4 linked regions of the Homo sapiens genome follow. The protein of the gene in region 1 purifies or fractionates together with the protein of each later gene. This does not show direct contact. Each region holds a gene or a part of one and is shown in the gene's direction. Other genes may lie near its edges.

What was found. The genes of interacting proteins can lie anywhere in the genome.
Region 2: the proteins of LETM1 (region 1) and ADCK2 purify together in Homo sapiens (affinity purification with mass spectrometry; one large-scale study listed by BioGRID and IntAct). This does not show direct contact.
Region 3: the proteins of LETM1 (region 1) and ACOT9 fractionate together in Homo sapiens (co-fractionation; one large-scale study listed by BioGRID). This does not show direct contact.
Region 4: the proteins of LETM1 (region 1) and OGDH fractionate together in Homo sapiens (co-fractionation; one large-scale study listed by BioGRID). This does not show direct contact.

The regions. Positions count from the first base shown.
Region 1 is NC_000004.12:1,831,599-1,836,237, reverse strand, and holds part of LETM1 (mitochondrial proton/calcium exchanger protein precursor), read left to right. Parts: intron 1-1,255; coding exon 1,256-1,393; intron 1,394-3,290; coding exon 3,291-3,494; intron 3,495-4,639. UniProt on the Homo sapiens protein: Plays an important role in maintenance of mitochondrial morphology and in mediating either calcium or potassium/proton antiport. Mediates proton-dependent calcium efflux from mitochondrion.
Region 2 is NC_000007.14:140,678,864-140,683,478, forward strand, and holds part of ADCK2 (uncharacterized aarF domain-containing protein kinase 2), read left to right. Parts: intron 1-291; coding exon 292-420; intron 421-2,178; coding exon 2,179-2,274; intron 2,275-4,615. UniProt on the Homo sapiens protein: The function of this protein is not yet clear. It is not known if it has protein kinase activity and what type of substrate it would phosphorylate (Ser, Thr or Tyr).
Region 3 is NC_000023.11:23,725,743-23,730,357, reverse strand, and holds part of ACOT9 (acyl-coenzyme A thioesterase 9, mitochondrial isoform a precursor), read left to right. Parts: intron 1-4,615. UniProt on the Homo sapiens protein: Mitochondrial acyl-CoA thioesterase. Catalyzes the hydrolysis of acyl-CoAs into free fatty acids and coenzyme A (CoA), regulating their respective intracellular levels. Regulates both mitochondrial lipid and amino acid metabolism.
Region 4 is NC_000007.14:44,609,046-44,613,660, forward strand, and holds part of OGDH (2-oxoglutarate dehydrogenase complex component E1 isoform 1 precursor), read left to right. Parts: intron 1-4,615. UniProt on the Homo sapiens protein: 2-oxoglutarate dehydrogenase (E1o) component of the 2-oxoglutarate dehydrogenase complex (OGDHC). Participates in the first step, rate limiting for the overall conversion of 2-oxoglutarate to succinyl-CoA and CO(2) catalyzed by the whole OGDHC.

The DNA.
Region 1 (4,639 bases):
TTATTTATTTATTTATTTTTGAAACAGGGTCTCGCTCTGTCACCCAGGCTGGAGTGCAGCAGTGCGATCTTGTCTCACTGCATACAACCTCTGCCTCCCGGGTTCAAGCGAATCTCCTGCCTCAGCCTCCCAAGTAGCTGGGATTATAGGCATGTGTGCCACCATACACAGGTCTCGCCCTGTCACCCAGGCTGGAGTGCAGTGGTGCGATCACGGCTCACTGCAGCCTCAAGTTCCTGGACTTAAGTGATCCTCTTGTCTTAGCTCCCGAATAGCTGGGACTACAGGCTAAGCCACCACATCTGACTAATTTTTTTTTGTTTTTTATAGACAAGATCTGCTATGTTGCCCAGGCTGGTCTCAAACTCCTGGGCACAAGTAATCCTCTTGCCATGACCTCCCAAAGTGTTATTATGGGTGTGAGCCACTGCTTCCAGCTCAATGTATTTTAAAATACAGGTTTTCTAGACCAGGAACACTCCCCTACCGGTGCTATAGGGGAGTCATGAGGTCCTTCTAGGGCAGGGTCAGCCAGCTGCAGCCCACAGGCCAGATCAGGACCCTGCCTGTTCTCAGCAGAGCCCTGTGGGGACCTGCGATGCCCAGTCATGTGTCTTGTCTGTGAGGCACCAGCAGAGTTAAGCATTTGTTTTAGACCACACAGCCATGAAGGCCAGACGCCTTCCTGTCTAGCCCATTACGGAAAGTGTGCCGATCCTTGCTTTAGGGAATCACACGAGTTTGTTTGTTTTTGTTTGTTTGTTTGTTTGTTTTTGTTTTGTTTTTGTTTTTTTTTTGAGACGGAGTTTCGCTCTGTCACCCAGGCTGGAGAGTGCAGTGGTGCAATCTCAGCTCACTGTAGCCTCCACCTCCTGGGTTCAAGCGATTCTTGTGCCTCAGCCTCCCAAGTAGCTGGGATTACAGGTGTGCATGCCTGGCTAATTTTTGTGTTTTTAGTAGAGACGGGGTTTCACCGTGTTGGCCAGGCTGGTCTCAAACTCCTGACCTCAGGTGATCCACCCACCTTGGCCTCCCAAAGTGCTGGGATTACAGGCATGAGCCACTGTGCCCGGCCCACACGGGTACTTTTTAAAACCATGAAATAAAAGAGTTTGAGAATGTATTGCACTTAGATGAGAGTCAGTGTGTTGTGAAATGTTTCTGGGAGTGGGGGTCGGGCACAGGCGTGAGATGTTTTCCTTGCCCGAACCACAGTCTGAGCAGTTGGAATGCAGTGCCCTCTCTGCCCTTGCAGGAGGAGAGGCTGAAGAAGGAGCTTCGGGTCAAGCTGGAGCTGGCCAAGTTCCTCCAGGACACCATCGAGGAGATGGCCTTGAAGAACAAGGCAGCCAAGGGCAGCGCCACCAAAGACTTCTCTGTGTTTTTCCAGAAGGTGCTGTGATACGTCTGAGTCCCTGTGACCTCACCAGGGAGCCTTCCCTGATTTTCTGTTTCCCTTTCGCTGTGCTCAGCAGAGTGGAGCTCCCCCAGGTGCTGGCTGGCGCTTGAAAGTTTACCCAGGAGGCTCAGTCGGGGGCCAGTGGAGTGTCAGGAGTCTGCCCCCACGAGCTCCCAGTGAGTTAAGCTGTGGTGGCTGCGCCTCGTCAGCCTTCAGAATTATGGGCGTCTGTGTCTCATCACCCTGCAGCTGTCCAGGAGCAGTAGAATCTGACCCATGAGGAGCCTGAGACCCTGATGGTGTGAGGTGTGGGTGGCTTGGCCGGGCTCCTCTGCTGGGCATTGCCCTCTGGCTGGAGTCAGTCAAGAAGATCCCAGGTCCCAGGGGCTGGTCAGAGGCCTGGACTGTGGGAGCAGTGGGGGCTGGAGAGGAGGAGCGGCCCTTGAGGTTTCCTGCGGTCATGTGGTGAGTGAGGTGAGGATGGGGAGACGGCAGCTGCCACGGACCGAGATCCCTGAGGACTAGATGGGGTTCACGAGGCCGGTGTTGTTGGCTTGAGGGACTTGTGCCACTTTGGAGTGAGAAGGATGTGTCTGAAGTGCAGGAAGAGCTTAAACCAGGGCCTAGAAACTCCAGCCATGCGTGTGCGTTGTCTGTGGGGTTTTCCCGCTGCAGCACAGAGGCGAGTGGTTTCCATGGCTGCAAAGCCAGAAATACTTGCTGTCTGGCCCTTGACAGAAAAGACTGCCAGGCTGAGGCCTAACCACGGAGAAGCCTCTCGGGAGGAGGCGACACAGCCATGGGGCTGCTGAGCCCCCCAGGGAGTGGGTGGTGGTTCCAGCAAGATGTTTTAGGGGGAGCCATGCTTTGGGAGCCTCACCCAGGACATCGTGCCTTGCAGAGCAGGAGGGGCCCGTCCCAACCTTTCCTGGGCCGCCCAGCTGCCAAGAAGGATGTGCTTGCAGTCACCTGCACGGGGGTGTGCTGCATAGGGCCGCCCCCAGGAGCACACCTGAAATTGTGTCTCAGAGCTGGCATCCTGCATGTTACGATTTGAGTTGGGCACCAAGTCAGCCTCGTCCTCCCTCATCTGTCACCTCTGCTAGGTACCCTCCTAGCCCAGCTCTTGGCAGAGACTGAGCTGGTGGCTTGTCCCTCAGGTGGTAGGAACTGCAGAGGATCACCCAAAGGGCCCTGAGTGATCCACGCTAAGGGACTCTAGCTCTCCCTAAAGAGCTAGATGGCCACCCCTCCCCCAAGGCTCAGGCAGTCATCCGTGGGAGATGTAGGTGCACACAGGTGCACCTCTTCCTGCCCCAGAGCAGCAGGGTCCCGGCCACTTCTGTGGCAGAGAGAGGATCACAGGACCTGCATGCAGCAGCCTGTGGGCCCGGGCGTCTCCCCCAGCAGACAGCAGCCTCAGCTTTGCTGGTTCAGGCAGGAGAGGTCCACAGGCCAGACGCCACCTTTCCCCAGGCTAGCCCAGCACCGGAGTCAGAAGTCAGTGGTTTGAGGCCAAGCTGGGCAGGTGACTTGAGGTCGGGTATTTGAGACCAGCCTGGCCAACATAGTGAAATCCCATCTCTACTAAAATACAAAAATTAGCTGGGTGTGGTGGCGCAGCCTGTAATCCCAGCTACTCGGGAGGCTAAGGCAGGAGAATCCCTTGAACCCAGGAGGTGGAGGTTGCAGTGAACCGAGATTACACCACTGCATTCCAGCCTGGGTAACAGAGCGAGACCCTGTCTCAAACAAAAAAAAAAAAGAAGAAGTAGTCAGTGGTTTGAGTCCCTGAGGATGAGAGGCAGCACCCTTTGGGAATGTGGTTGGTCGTGGGAGGGAGCCGGGTGGGCGCGTGTCCCGGGGATGACCCTTGTGACCACTTCCGCAGATCCGGGAAACAGGGGAGAGGCCCAGCAATGAGGAAATCATGCGTTTTTCCAAATTATTTGAGGATGAGCTGACCCTGGACAACCTGACACGGCCGCAGCTGGTGGCCCTGTGCAAGCTGCTGGAGCTACAGTCCATCGGCACCAACAACTTCCTGCGCTTCCAGCTTACCATGCGGCTGCGCTCCATAAAGGCAGACGACAAGGTGAGCCTGGCCATACTCCGCGCCACAGCTCTGGTGTTTTACCTTTTCGTTTCCTGATGATAAAAGCAGCATGTCCTCATTGTAGAAACTCTGGAAGATGCTGAACGATCGAAAATAAGCTCACTAGGAGTCTTGCCACTTGCAGATTGCAGATCCTTTGAAGATGGATGTCTTTTCTCTGGCACCTTCTCGGATGATCTCTCTGTTTGGATTTCGTCAGATTTATAATAACTTGCTTAGTTGTGTCTGTCTTTGTGTTCATCCTGCTTATTGATGACAGTGCCTCTGTGCCTCTCTCCTCACATCAGGGTCTTCATCGAGGGTCCATTTGCCCCTTTGCCCTGTCCTGTCCATCGCACGTGCTTGCCTCTGTGCTTCACGCCCTTTTGTGCTTTCAGGGCGCTGCCCTCCTTCTAGGTCTGATTACTCCTTTTTTTTTTTGAGACGGTGTTTCGATCTTGTTGCCCAGGTTGGAGTGCAGTGGCGAGATCTCGACTCACTGCAACCTCTGCCTCCTGGGTTCAAGCGATTCTCCTGCCTCAGCCTCCAGAGTAGCTGGGATTACAGGCGCCCGCCACCATACCCGGCTATTTTTTGTATTTTTTAGTAGAGACAGGGCTTCATCACATTGGCCAGGCTGGCCTCAAACTCTGGACCTCAAGCGATCTGCCCACATCGGCCTCCCAAAGTGCTGGGATTACAGGCATGAGCCACTGTGTCCGGCTGGTTACTCTTTTATTCATACTAGGAGCTCTTAAGATTTCAGTTCTCAGGTAAAACTGTTCCTCTTGTCATCTGTCTTTTTGAATGCACTAACTCTAGTTCACATTGATTACTCTAATAACTGGGTGGTCCGTAGGCCTTTTTCTTTTGCTCTCCCTTCTGATTTTGTTTGTAGTGTTTAGTTTTTCCTGAATGCAGGCATTGTCTGTGGAAGACAAAGAGGTTCAGGGCAGTGTTGAACTCTTCCAGGAAGAGCCTGCCTGCATCTCTGGTGAGCAGGTTGAGGGCCAGTCATTTCCATGAATCAAGGCAAGGCCATGTGGGGAGCCTGTATCCCGCCCTTGCCGGGACACAACAGGCACCCCAGCCCTGGTGGTGATGGTGTCAGAGAAGGCTGAGGGGGCCAGCCCCTGTGGTGTCAG
Region 2 (4,615 bases), on another chromosome or scaffold:
GGTGTGAGGCAGGCGGGTGGCAAGGGCGAGAGTAGCAGAGAAGCAGTGCAGCCCAAAGCCCACCAGGGCACCTGCCGTCTGCAGCCTCCAGGAGTTCACACAGAGATCTGGGATTGCTGGGGCAGGCTGTAGCCCACGGATGTCGCCTCCTGAGTTTCTGGGCAAGTTCTGCGGGGCAAGCTGGTGGGGAAGGTGGGGTGGATCTCATGACTTGCTAGCTCCTTGGCATTGCAGATGTCACTGTGCCTGTACCCAGACTAGCCCTCATCCTTTCTGTCCATTTCTCTGTAGATTGACCTGCGTTACGAAGCTCAGAATCTAGAACACTTCCAGGTCAACTTCCGGAATGTGAAAGCCGTCAAGTTCCCCACCCCTCTGCGCCCCTTTGTCACCAGAGAAGTCTTGGTGGAAACGTATGAAGTAAGAGTGATGGCTTTGCCTGGCCATACCTTTCACTTGCCACTCGCAGTGGGCCCGTCTCCAGCCCACAGAAAGGCTTCAGTCTGGAGAGAGGATGGGATTTGTGTCTGTAAAACTGTGAGGAGCTGGGATGTGTTGGCCTCGGCGGGAGGCAGTGTTGGAGTGAGGTAGCTGAGAACACTGGGTGTGGCCCGATCCCCTAGATTTGAAAATCTGCTCTGCCATTTTATTAGTTGGTGACCTGCCTTAGAGGATTGTCTCAGGAGTAAATGACACACTGAATGCAAAACAAGGAGTTGGGCACAGAGAAAGTGCTGAACAACCTTGTGTCATCTCACTTGCCCTAGCTATCCTCTACTCTAGTTCAGCCTTCTCTCTCTTTTTTTTTTTTTTTTTTTTTTTTTTTTGAGATAGAGTCTCACTCTGTTGCCCAGGCTGGAGTGCAGTGGCATGATCTCAGCTCACTGCCACCTCCGCCTTCCAGGTTCAAGTGATTCTCGTGCCTCAGCCTCCCAAGTAGCTGCGATTACAGGTGTGTGCCACCACACCTGGCTAATTTTTGTATTTTTTAGTAGAGATGGAGTTTTGCCGTGTTGGCCAGGCTGGTCTGGAACTCCTGACCTCAAGTGATCTGCCTGCCTTGGCCTCCCAAAGTGCTGGGATTACAGGCATGAGCCACTGCACCCAGCCCAGCCTCCTCTTTACAGATGGTGATATGAGATTCAGGGAATCTCATGAATGTGACATGAACCACACAGTGTTTCTAGCTGTGTGAACTTGAGCAAGTTGCTTAACCTCTCTGGGCTTTGGTTCTTTTATTTGTTAATTAGGGATAACAAGATCTATCTCCATGGGTTGTTTTGACAATTTTTTTTTTTTTGAGACAAGGTCTTGCTCTGTTGCCCAGGCTGTGGTACAGTGGCATGATCTCGGCTCACTGCAGCCTCCACCTCCTGGGCTCAAGTGATCATTCCACCTCAGCCTCCCAAGTAGCTGGGACCATAGGCACGAGCCACCATCCCCATGTCCGACTAATTTTTGTATTTTTCTGTAGAGCCTGGGTTTCTCCCTGTTGCCCAGGCTGGTCTCAAACTCCCAAGTTCAAGTGATCCTCCTGCTTTGGTTTCCAAAAGTGCTAGGATTATACGTGTTAGCCACCACACCTGGGTAATTTTTTTTTTTTTTTGTAGAGATGGGGGTCTCCTTACGTTGCCCAGACCCCTATTGGCTGATTCTTGCCCAGAAACCAGCTCTCTGGTGCCCACCCCTATCTTTTCAGGACATCACATCTCTTATCTTCAGTAGCAGAGTTGATAGGTTTCCTTTTCAATAAACCTATGTGACTTGTCATCCTTCTGATAGCTGTTATAGAAGGGAATGTAAATAAGTTCAAATCAATGTGTGGATGACAGATTTTTGTTTTGTTTTGTTTGAGACAGAGTCTCTGTCACTCAGGCTAGAGTGCAGTGGCGCAATCTCAGCTCACTGAAGCCTTGACTTTCCGAGTTGAGGTGGTTCTCCCTCATGTTGTCCAGGCTGGTCTTGAACCCCTGGGCTCAAGCAATCCTCCCAAGGTGCTAGGATTACAGGTGTGAGCCACTGCACATGGCTGAATGACAGATGGGTTCTAGGAAAGGAAATACTCTTTGGGTTACTTCCCAATAAGTGAGAAGACAGCGCTGTGGTGCCACGTGGGAGGAGGAGCCAGCATCACAGGCTGGCTGGGATTAAGCTGTTCTCTCCCTGGTCTTTCTGAAGGAGAGTGTGCCTGTGTCCAGTTACCAGCAGGCAGGAATTCCCGTGGACTTGAAAAGGAAGATTGCACGGCTGGGGATCAACATGCTCCTGAAGATGGTGAGCTCATGGCTGGAGCGGGCTCAGGCCCAGCATGTGGTCAGCTTGCAGATGGGGAGTGGGCTGGGACTCTGGCTATCTGGGTGGGAAGGAGAGCGAAGCAGCAAGCCGCCAGGTTGAGAAAGTCTGGTCTAGAAAGAGTGGAGGCTACCATAAATGGCCATGGTGTCTGTGAAGCTCTTTTATTTTTTTTTTTTTGAGATGGAGTCTTGCTCTGTCGCCCAGGCTGGAGTGCGGTGGCGTGATCTCGGCTCACTGCAAGCTCTGCCTCCTGGGTTCACGCCATTCTCCTGCCTCAGCCTCCCAAGTAGCTGGGACTACAGGCGCCCGCCACCACGCCTGGCTAATTTTTTGTATTTTTTTAAGTAGAGATGGGGTTTCATCATGTTAGCCAGGATGGTGTCGATCTCCTGACCTCATGATCCACCCGCCTTGGCCTCCCAAAGTGCTGGGATTACAGGTGTGAACCACCACACCCGGCCTTTTTTTTCCTTTTTTAAGATAGGGTCTCACTCTGTTGCCGAGGTTGGAGTGCAGTGGCAAAATCTCCATGAACTACAGCCTCAACCTCTTGGGCTCAAGTGATCCTGCCTCCTCACTCCTCAGCCTCCTGAGTAGCTGGGACTACAAACATGAGCCACCAAGCCTGGCTAATTTAAAAAATTGTTTTGTAGGGACTTACTATGTTGTCCAGGGCAGTCTTGAACTCCTGGGATCAAGCGATCCTCCCACCTTGGCCTCCCAAAGTGTTGGGATTACAGGCATGAACCACCATGCCCGGCCTCTTAAGTGCTTTGTCAGTGGCTCATGCTCTGTGTGCTGTGAGAAGAAGGGTGACCATGACCCAGTTCTGCCAGCATTGCCTGTAGTTTAGCAAACAGCTGAGACAATATCTTATTTTAAATGCTGCTTTGCTCATTTGTTCAGCAAATGTTTATTGAGCACCTGCTAGGTGCCAGGCACTGAATTAAGGGCTGGGGTTACAGCAGTGAGCAAAACAGACACAATTACAATGCTCGTGACATACTATTCCTTGGGAAGATAGGTGACGACTAAGTAAATGATTTATAGGGATAGGTACGGGGTACCAAAAGGTCATTTCGGAGGAGACTGTGCTAACCCAGGGATTCACTCAGGAAGTGGCTCCATCTCAGCTGCAGTGTGAAGGTCTAGGTGTCACTACATAAGGACAGGTGGCAGGGAGTTGTCTAGAGAGAATAGCCTTTGCTGAGGCCTGGGGTGAGCTACTGCATGGTGCTCTTGGAGAGACGAAAGCACTTAGTATGGCTTGGAAGAGAGTTTGAAGGAGGGGGCAGTGATTGCTGAGGCTGAGGAGGTGAGAGGAGGCTGAGGAGGTGAGAGGGGCCTGACCACAAAGGGTCTAGTAAATCTGTGAAAGAGTTTGGACTTTAATCCAAGGGCAGATAAGTTCATTTTGAAGATTTTTGCCCTTAACTTTAAAAAATTGAATTCCAATAATATTTAAATATAAAGTGCTCAGATCTTAAATGATGCTTAGTGAATTTTTAAAAAGCATCCCAGTGCCCAGATTAAAACATAGGAGAGTTTTGGCTGGGTGCAGTGGCTCACACCTATAATCCCAGCACTTCAGGAGGCTGAGGCGGGGAGATTGCTTGAGCCCAGGGGTTTGAGACCAGCCTGAGCAAGATGCCAAAACCCTGTCACTACAAAAAAAAAAAAAAAAAAATACAAAAATTGGCCACGTTTGGTGGCAGCATGCCTTTAGTCCCAGCTACCTGGGAGGCTGAGGTGGGATCACCTGAGCCCAGGAGATGGAGGTTGTAGTGAGCTAAAATCATGCCACTGCACTCCAACCTCAGATACAATGAGACTCTGTCTCAAAAAAAAAAAAAAAAAAAAAAAGCCAGGCGCAGTGGCTCATGCCTGTAATCCCAGCACTTTGGGAGGCCGAGGCAGGTGGATCACGAGGTCAGGAGATCGAGACCATCCTGGCCAACATGGTGAAACCCTGTCTCTACTAAAATACAAAAAATTAGCCAGACGTGGTGGTGCATGCCTGTAGTCCCAGCTACTCGGAATTGCTTGAACCCAGGAGGCAGAGATTGCAGTGAGCCGAGATCACAGCACTGCACTCCAGCCTGGCGACAGAGCGAGACTCCGTCTAAACAAACAAACAAACAAACAAACATAAAGAGACATAGGAGGTTTTTATGCTGAGGAATGCCCTAATGTCACAACCTCATGTCCACTGTGTGGAGTTGGAGTGGGAGGGTGAGACGAGAGGCAGGGGAGTCAGAAGGTGGATTTTGATTCTTGGACATTTAAACATGTTCAAGTTCTCCAGCTCTCACCACATGCC
Region 3 (4,615 bases), on another chromosome or scaffold:
ACTTTGGGAGGCTGAGGCGGGCGGATCACTTGAGGTTGGGAGTTTGAGACCAGCCTGACCAACATGGAGAAACCCCGTCTCTACTAAAAATACAAAATTAGCCAGTTGTGTTGGTGGGCGCCGTAATCCCAGCTACTTGGGAGGCTGAGGCAAGAGAATCACTTGAACCTGGGAGGCAGAGGTTGCGGTGAGCTGAGATCGTGCCATTGCACTACAGCCTGGGTAACAAGAGTGAAACTCCATCTCCAAAAAAAAAAAAAAAAAATGGCATCTACTACTTCTGAATTGTCATAATTTTTTTCTTATAAATGTAGATTCCTATTTAATGGAGGTATAGTCTGAATAATCTTTCTTACTAGTAACTTTAAAAAAAGAAAGTCTTAAACTTACAGAAAAGTTGCAAATACAGTATAAAGAATTTTTCTGTGGCCAGGCGCGGTGGCTCACGCCTATAATCCCAGCACTTTGGGAGGCTGAGGCAGGCAGATCACAAGGTCAGGAGATCGAGACCATCCTGGCTAACATGGTGAAACCCCATCTCTACTAAAAATACAAAAAATTAGCCAGGCGTGGTGGCATACGCCTGTAGTCCCAGCTATTCAGGAGGCTGAGGCAGGAGAATCACTTGAACCTGGGAGGTGGAGGTTGCATTGAGCCGAGATCGCGCCACTGCACTCCAGCCTGGGCGACAGAGTGAGACTCCGTCTCAAAAATAAAAAAGAAAAAAATTTTTTGTCCCTGAATTATGTGAGAATAAGTGGCTGACATGATGCCACATCACCCCCAAATATTTGAATATGTCTTTCCTACAAACAAGGACATTCTTCTACATAACTACAAAACAACCATAAAAAATCAGGAAATTAACACTGATGTGTCATACTGTCTAATCCTCAGGTCCCATTCAACTTTTGCCAGTGGTCCTTCATAGCAGAAGGATCCAGTTCTGAATCATATGTTGATTTAATTGTCATGTCAGGACTAGTTCCTTAATCTTTCTTTGACTTTCGTGACTTTGACATGGTTCTTTTGTGTATTGTCCCTCAATTTGGGTCTGTGTGGTGCTTCCTCATGATTAGCTTTGGGTTATGCATCTCTGGCAGGAATGTCACAGAAGGGATGCTCTGTTCTTATTGTATCCTATCAAGTGGTGCATGGTTTTGATTTGTCTCATTACTGATGATATCAGCTTTGCTTACTGGATGACGATGATGTCTGCCACTGTTCTTCACTGTAAAGTTACTCTTTTCCCCTTTGTAATTAATAAGTACCTTATGTGGGGGGGGGTGGCAGGTAACTTTGAGACCTTCATCAGACTTTCAATTCATTATTTTTAAATCAGTATGGACTCAGGAATTCCTATGTTACTGAATGGACTATAATATGTTACTATCATCTATTTGATGTTCACATGATCCCAGGAGTGTCCCAGTCCCTTCAGGCTAGCTTCTGTGTGGTTTTCTTTGATGTGTCCCCATTATTCTTTGAGCACTTTCTCACTTTCTGGCACAATAAAATATTCTAGGCTCATCTTATGCTTTTCCCTGCCCCAGTCCTAGAATCACCCACATCTCCAAGGAGCCCTTTTTTGAAATGGAGAATGATATTTTGAAGTGGAGGATGATATTTTGAAATGGAGATATGTGCGTTGGGAGTGGTCATTATTCCTGGGTATCACTGCTCCCATACCCTCTTAGTGGAGGAGCTGGGAAATATATGTGCATATACGTACATATATGTTATTTCTAAATCTTTGTACAGATGTATGTATGAAAACCATGGGATCGCACTGATAGCTCCAATTCCAGTTCAGCCACCACGGGGTTCATTCTCATTTCCTTCCTTTCCATATTTGTAATTCCCTTCTCCAACTGGCTCCATTCTCCTTAATATATTGACTTATTTAATCAGTTCCGCTGTATGTGACCAATTTCCTATGGCTGCCACCCCTCATGCATCATGGATGCTCCCCTCACCTTACCTGGGCTCTGGTACCCCACACCAGGTCCCCCTCTGCAGGCTCACCCTCTTCATTGTGCTCAAGCTGTGACATGCTCTGCCATCACTCTTGCAGCCTCTCTGCAAGGATGTCCTCCTCACCGTGCTTGGATGCCAGCACCCTACTCTAGGTTACCTTACTTGCTCCCACCTAATGATATTTGGGCTGAATGGTTGGGAAAGGGTCTGAAAAAGGGTTCTAATATATTGTTTAAAAAACTATTTTTTTATAGAGATGGGGTCTCCCTGTGTTGCCCAGGTTTTTCGTGAACTCCTGGGCTCAAAGGATCTTCCTGCCTCAGCCTCCTAAAGTTCTGATTACAGGTGTGAGCCGCCGTGCCTGGCCTTTTTTTTTTTTTTTGAGACAGAGTCTCACTCTTGTTGCCCGGCCTGGAGTAGAGTGGTCCGATCTTGGCTCATTGCATCTTCTGCCTCTGGGTTCAGGCGATTCTCCTGCCTCAGCCTCCTGAACAGCTGGGATTACAGGCACCCGCCATCACATCTGGCTAATTTTTGTATTTTTAGTAGAGACGGGGTTTCACCATGTTGGCCAGTCTGGTCTCAAACTCCTGACCTCAGGTGATCTGCCTGCCTCGGCCTCCCAAAGTGCTGGGATTACAGGTGTGAGCCACCATGCCAGGCCCTAACTTTTAAAATATAGATACAAGCTTGTTGTTAAGCTTACGCCTAGCAACTACTTTTCTCTAGATTAAATAAACCCAGTTAAAAATTCTTGGCTGGGCACAGTGGCTCACACCTGTAATCCTTGCACTTTGGGAGATCGAGGCAGGAGGATCGCTTGAGGCCAAGACTTTGAGACCAGCCTGGGAAACATAGTGAGTCCCCATCTCTACAAAACCCAAAAAATTAGCTGGGCATGGTGGCATGCACTAGTAGTTCCAGCTACTCAGAAGACTGAGGTGGGAGGATTGCTTCAGCCCAGGAAGTCGAGGCTGCAGTGAGCTGTGGTGACACCACTGCACTACAGCCTGATTGACTTTGGTTTGCTTAGGTGTCCTTATATATACAAACTCCCCTGCCACTACCCTCTTTCTTGCTCATTAACTTCTGTTGATGGCCAGTCCCTTTAACCTGTTCACTTGATTCTATTCCTTCTATTTCTTCAAGGAACTGCCTTATCACTTGGCTTTCTCCCTCATTTCCTGAGCCTTTTCTCAACTTCACTTTTCCCTCAAGTTATAAACATATTCAAGGTTCTTCCATCTTAAAATGAAAAATAGGCCGGGCAGGGTGGCTTACGCCTGTAATCCCAGTAGTTTGGGAGGCCGAGGCGGGTGGATCACTTGAGGCCAGGAGTTCGAGACCAGCCTGGGCAATATGGTGAAACCCCGTCTCTACTAAAACTACAAAAAGTAGCCGGGCGTGGTGGTGCGTGCCTGTAATCCCAGCTACTCGGGAGGCTGAGGCACGAGAATCGCTTGAGCCTGGGAGGCAGAGGTTGCAGTGAGCTGAGATAGACTCCAGCCTGGACAACAGAGCGAGACTCTGTCTCAAAAACACAAAAATTAGCCGGGTGTAGTGGCATGTGCCTGTAGTCCCAACTACTCAGGAGGTTGAGGCAGGAGAATGGCTTGAACCCGGGAGGTGGAGGCTGCAGTGAGCTGAGATCGCACCACTGCATTCCAGCCTGGGTGACAGAGTGAGGCTCTGAGTCAAAAAAAAAAAAAAAGATAAGTAAAAAATCCTCTTTCCTTATAACACCTCACACTTTCTTCCTTACTTCATAGCTCACTTTCTGAAAAGAACCTAGAAAATCACCTGCTCTCATTGCCTCTTTATGCTAACTTCCTGTTAATTAAACATTTCCCGGTCGGCTGTGTTCCGGCTTCTGCTCCTCCACGCCATTGAATCTGCTCTTGCCAAGCTCGCCATTGGCCCCTTTACTGCACAGTTGAATGGATACTTTTCAGGGCTGACCTGACCCCTTTGTGGCTTCTTATATCGTCCAGCCCATCCTTGGGCTTTGGTGACATTTCCTTCTGCTTCTCTGGCTGCTCTTTTGTAGTCCCCTTTGTAGGTTCCTCTTTTTCTGTTGATCCCTTAAATGTAGGTTATCCCCAGGGTTTTGTCTTCTGCCCTTTCAAAAACTGATTATTTTTTGAATTTATTTTATTTTATTTTGTTTATTTATTTTTTTTGAGCTGTAGTTTCGCTCTTGTTGCCCAGGCTGGAGTGCAATGGCGCTATCTCAGCTCACTGCATCCTCCATCTCCCGGGTTCAAGGGATTCTCCTGCCTCAGCCTCCCATGTAGCTGGGATAACAGGCACACACCACCACGCCCGGCTAATTTTTTGTATCTTTAGTAGAGACGGGGTTTCACCATGTTGGCCGGGCTGGTCTCGAACTTCTGACCTCAGGTGATCCACTCGCCTCGGCCTCCCAAAGTGCTGGGATTACAGACGTGAGCCACTGCGCCCGGCCTTTTGAATTTTATAATTTGTTCATATTAATTAAATTTTAAGGCATTTTAAAATTTAACAATAAAATTGTTAAATCTTTTAAAATTATTTATTTAGTTTTTGAGACAGGGTCTCACTCTGTCACCCAGGCTGGAGTGCAGTGGCGTGATCACAGCTCACTGTAGCCTTGACCTCC
Region 4 (4,615 bases), on another chromosome or scaffold:
ATTCCCAGTCCTTCAACTCCTGGTAACCACTAATCTGTTCTTCATTTCCCTAATTTTGGCATGTCAAGAATGCCAAATAAAAGGATTCATAGAGCCTTTTGGGATTGGTTTTTTCCAGTCAGCTTAATTCCCTGGAGAATCATCCAGGTTGTTGCGTGTTATGGGTAGTTCATTCCTTGGCCAGGCGCAGTGGCTTACGCCTGTAATCCTAGCAACTTTGGGAGGCTGAGGCAGGCAGATCGCTTGAGCCCCAGGAGTTCGAGTCTGAGGAACATAGTGAGACCTCGTCTCTACAAAAAAAAAAAAAAAAAAAAATTAGCCAGGCGCAGTGGTGTGTTCCTGTAATCCCAGCTACTCAGGAAGCTGAGGTGGGAGGATCGCTTGAGCCTAGGCTGTGGTGGCTGCGGTGAGCCGAGATCGCGCCACTGCACTCCAGCATGAGTGACAGAGTGAGACCCTGTCTCAAAAAAAAAAAAAAAAAGGTACTTCATTCCTTTTTATTGAAGCCGGGCTATTGGGCTATGGATGTACCACATTTGGTTTATTCATCCATTAAAAGACATCTTTACTGTTTCCATTCTTTGGCTATTACAAATAAAGCTGCTACAAACCTTCATGTACAGATTTTTATTTGAACATAAATTGACATTTCTCCAAGATAAATGCCCAGGAATACAATCACTAAGTCGTAGTGCGTGCTTAGTTATTAAACAAATAGCCAAACTGTTTTCCAGAGTGATTGTACTATTTTACATTCCCACCGGCACTGTATGGTCTTGTTTCTCCACATACTTGCCAGCATTTGGTGATGTTACTTTTTTTATTATAGCCATTCCAATAAATGTGTAGTAATGTCTCTTTGTGGTTGTAATTTGCATTTTTCTGATGGCTAATGATGTTGAACATCTTTTCATGTGCTTATTTGCCATCTGTCTATTCTCTCTTTTTTTGGAAGAGATGGGATCTTGCTATGTTGCCCAGGCTGGTCTTGAACTCCTGGGATCAAGTGATCCTCCTGTCTTAGCCTCCCAAAGGCTAGGATTTCAGGCATGAGCCACCATGCCTGGCCCCTGTATACTCTCGGGTGAAATGTCTGTTCATATCTTTTGTTCATTTCGTAATTAGATTGTTCGGTTTTTGTTAACTGTTGAGCTTTGAGAATTCCTAATGTATTCTAGATACCACTGCTTTGTTGGATATGTAGTTTGCAGATATTTTCTCCTAGTCAGCAGCATGTCTTTTCATCTTGGTTTTTTTTTTGTTTGTTTGTTTGTTTTGTTTTTGAGATGGAGTCTCGTTCTGTCCCCCAGGCTGGAGTGCAGTGGCGTAATCTCTACAACCTCTGCCTCCCAGGTTCAAGCGATTCTTCCGCCTCAGCCTCCTGAGTAGCTGGGATTACAGGCGCTTGCCACCACACCTGGCTAATTTTTGTATTTTTAGTAGAGACGGGGTTTCACCGTGTTGGTCAGGCTGGTCTCGAACTCCTGACCTCGCGATCTGTCCACCTCAGCCTCCCAGAGTGCTGGGATTACAGGCGTGAGCCACTGCTCCTAGCCCTTTTCATCTTTTTGTTTGTTTGTTTGTTTGAGACGGAGTCTTGCTCTGTTGCCCAGGCTGGAGTGCAGTGGTGCAATCTTGGCTCACTGCAACCTCCACCTCCCCGGTTCAAGCCTTTCTCAGCCTCCCAAGTAGCTGGGACTACAGCCGCGTGCCACCACGCCCGGCTAATTCTTTTGTATTTTTAGTAGAGACGGGCTTTTACTGTGTTAGCCAGGATGGTCTGGATCTCCTGACCTCGTGATCGACACCCCCTTGGCCTCCCAAAGTGCTGGGATTACAGGCGTGAGCCACCGCGCTCAGCCCCTTTTCATCTTCTTAACGGGGTCTTTTGCAAAGCAAAAGTTTATAATTTTGATGAGGTCTGGTTTACCAATTTTATCTTTTGTTAGATTGCTTTTGGTGTTGAGTTGAAGAACTCTTTGCCTAGCCCAAATTCCTGAAGATTTTATCATATGTATTTTTCTAAATTTTTTTTTTTTTTTTTTTGGAGACACGGTCTTACTCTGTCACCCCAGGCTGGAGTGCAGTGGCATGATCACAGCTCACCGCAGCCTCAACCTCCTGGGCTCAGGTGATCCGGTGATCCTCACACCTCAGCCTCCTGAGTAGCTAAGAGTACCGGAGTCTGCACCATGCCTGGCTAATTTTTGTATTTTTTGTTTTTTGGTTTTTTGAGACGGAGTCTCGCTCTGTCGCCCAGGCTGGAGTGCTGGAGTGCAGTGGCACGATCTCAGCTCACTGCAACCTCCGCCTTCCGGGTTCATGCCATTCTCCCACCTCAGCCTCCTGAGTAGCTGGGACTACAGGTGCCCGCCACCATGCCCGGCTAATTTTTTTTTTTTGTATTTTTTAGTAGAGACGGGGTTTCACTGTGTTACCCAGGATGGTCTCGATCTCCTGACCTCGTGATCCCCCCCGCCTCGGCCTCCCAAAGTGCTGGGATTACAGGCGTGAGCCACCGTGCCTGGCCTAATTTTTGTATTTTTTGTAGGGACGGGTTTTGCCATGTTGCCCAGACTGGTCTCAAACTCCTGGGGTCAAGCAATCCTCCCACCTTGGCTTCCTGAAGTGCCAGGATTACAGGCGTGAGCCACTGCGCCTGGCCACTTTTATAAAATTTTTAAATTTTACATTTAAATCTATGATTCATTTAGACTTAATTTCTTTTTTCTTTTTTTTTTTATGTTTTCACTTTATGGTACTTTTTGATGAACAGTTTTTAATTTTAATGTAATTGATATAAATTTAGTCTTGTGGCCAGCTTTTTTTGAGTCCTAAAGACTCAAGATCAAATAGATATTCTAAAAGTTTTAATGTTTTTTTTTATTATTATGCTTTAAGTTCTGGGGTACATGTGCACAACATGCAGGTTTGTTACATATGTATACATGTGCCATGTTGGTGTGCTGCACCCATTAACTCGTCATTTACATTAGGTATATCCATTTGGAGTTAATTTCTGTATGTGGTTTAAAGTTTGAGTGTTTTTTGGTTTTTGTGGGGGGTTTTTGCTTATGAATATCTAACCAGCACCGTTTGTTTGAGAAGACTGTTTTTCTTCCATTGAATTGCTTTTGCACTTTCGTCAGAAATCACTTGGCTGTACTTGTGTGACTCTGTTTCTGATTCTCTGTTGCATTCCATTGATCTTTGTGTCTATCCCATCACCAATACCGAGAGTTTTTATTATTGTAGCTCATAAGAAGTCTCAAAATCGGATAGATTGATTTCTCTCACTTCTTTTTCAAAATTGTTTCAGCTAATCTAGTTCTTTTGCCTTTCTTTTTTTTTTCTTGTGACGGAGTCTTACTCTGTTGCCCAGGCTGGAGTGCAATGGGCATGATCTCGGCTCACTGCAACCTCTGCATCCTGGGTTCAAGCGATTCTCCTGCCTCAGACCCCCGAGTAGGTGGGACTACAGGCATGCACCACCACACCCTGCTAATTTTTTTTATTTTTAGTAGAGATGGGGTTTCACCATGTTGGCCAGGCTGGTCTTGAACTCCTGATCTCATGATCCACTCGCCTCGGCCTCCCAAAGTGCTAGGATTACAGGCGTGAGCCACCACGCCTGGCCACCTTTCTTCATTATACTTATTTATTATTTTTGAGGCAGGGTCTTACTCTGTCACCCAGGCTGGAGTAGAGTGGCATTATCACAGCTCACTGCAGCCTCTACTTCCAGGCTCAAGCAATCTTGCTACTTCAGCCTCCTGAGTAGCTGGGACTGCAGGCACGTACCACCACGCCTGGCTGTTTTTTTTCTTTTCTTTTCTTTTCTTTTCTTTTTTTTGAGACGGAGTGTCACTCTGTCGCCCAGGCTGGAGTGCAGTGGCGCGATCTCGGCTCACTGCAACCTCCGCCTCCTGGGTTCAAGCAATTCTCCTGCCTCAGCCTCCTGAGTAGCTGGGACTACAGGCACGTGCCACCAACGTAATTTTTTTGTATTTTTAGTAGAGACAGGGTTTCACCATGTTAGCCAGGATGGTCTCGATCTCCTGACCTCGTGATCCACTTGCCTCTGCCTCCCAAAGTGCTGGGATTACAGGCATGAGCCACTGCGCCTGGCTTGTTTTTGTTTTTGTTTTTTGAGACAGTCTCACTTTGTCGCCCAGGCTGGAATGCAGTGTTGTGATCTCGGCTCACTGCAACCTCTGCCTCCCAGATTCATGTTATTCTCTCACCTCGGCCTCCTGAGTAACTGGGACTATAGGCACCCGCCACCACACCTGGCTGTTTTGTTTGTTTGTTTATTTGTTTGTTTGTTTGTTTTGAGACGGAGTCTCACTCTGTCACCCAGGCTGGAGTGCAGTGATGCGATCTTGGCTCACCGCAAGCTCTGCCACCCAGGTTCACGCCATTCTTCTGCTCAGTCTCCCGAGTAGCTGGGACTATAGGCGCCCACCACCATGCCTGGCTAATTTTTTGTATTTTTAGTAGAGATGGGGTTTCACCGTGTTAGCCAGGATGGTCTCAATCTCCTGGCCTCGTGATCCACCCGTCTCGGCCTCCCAAAGTGCTGGGATTACAGGCGTGAGCCACCACGCCCGGCTAT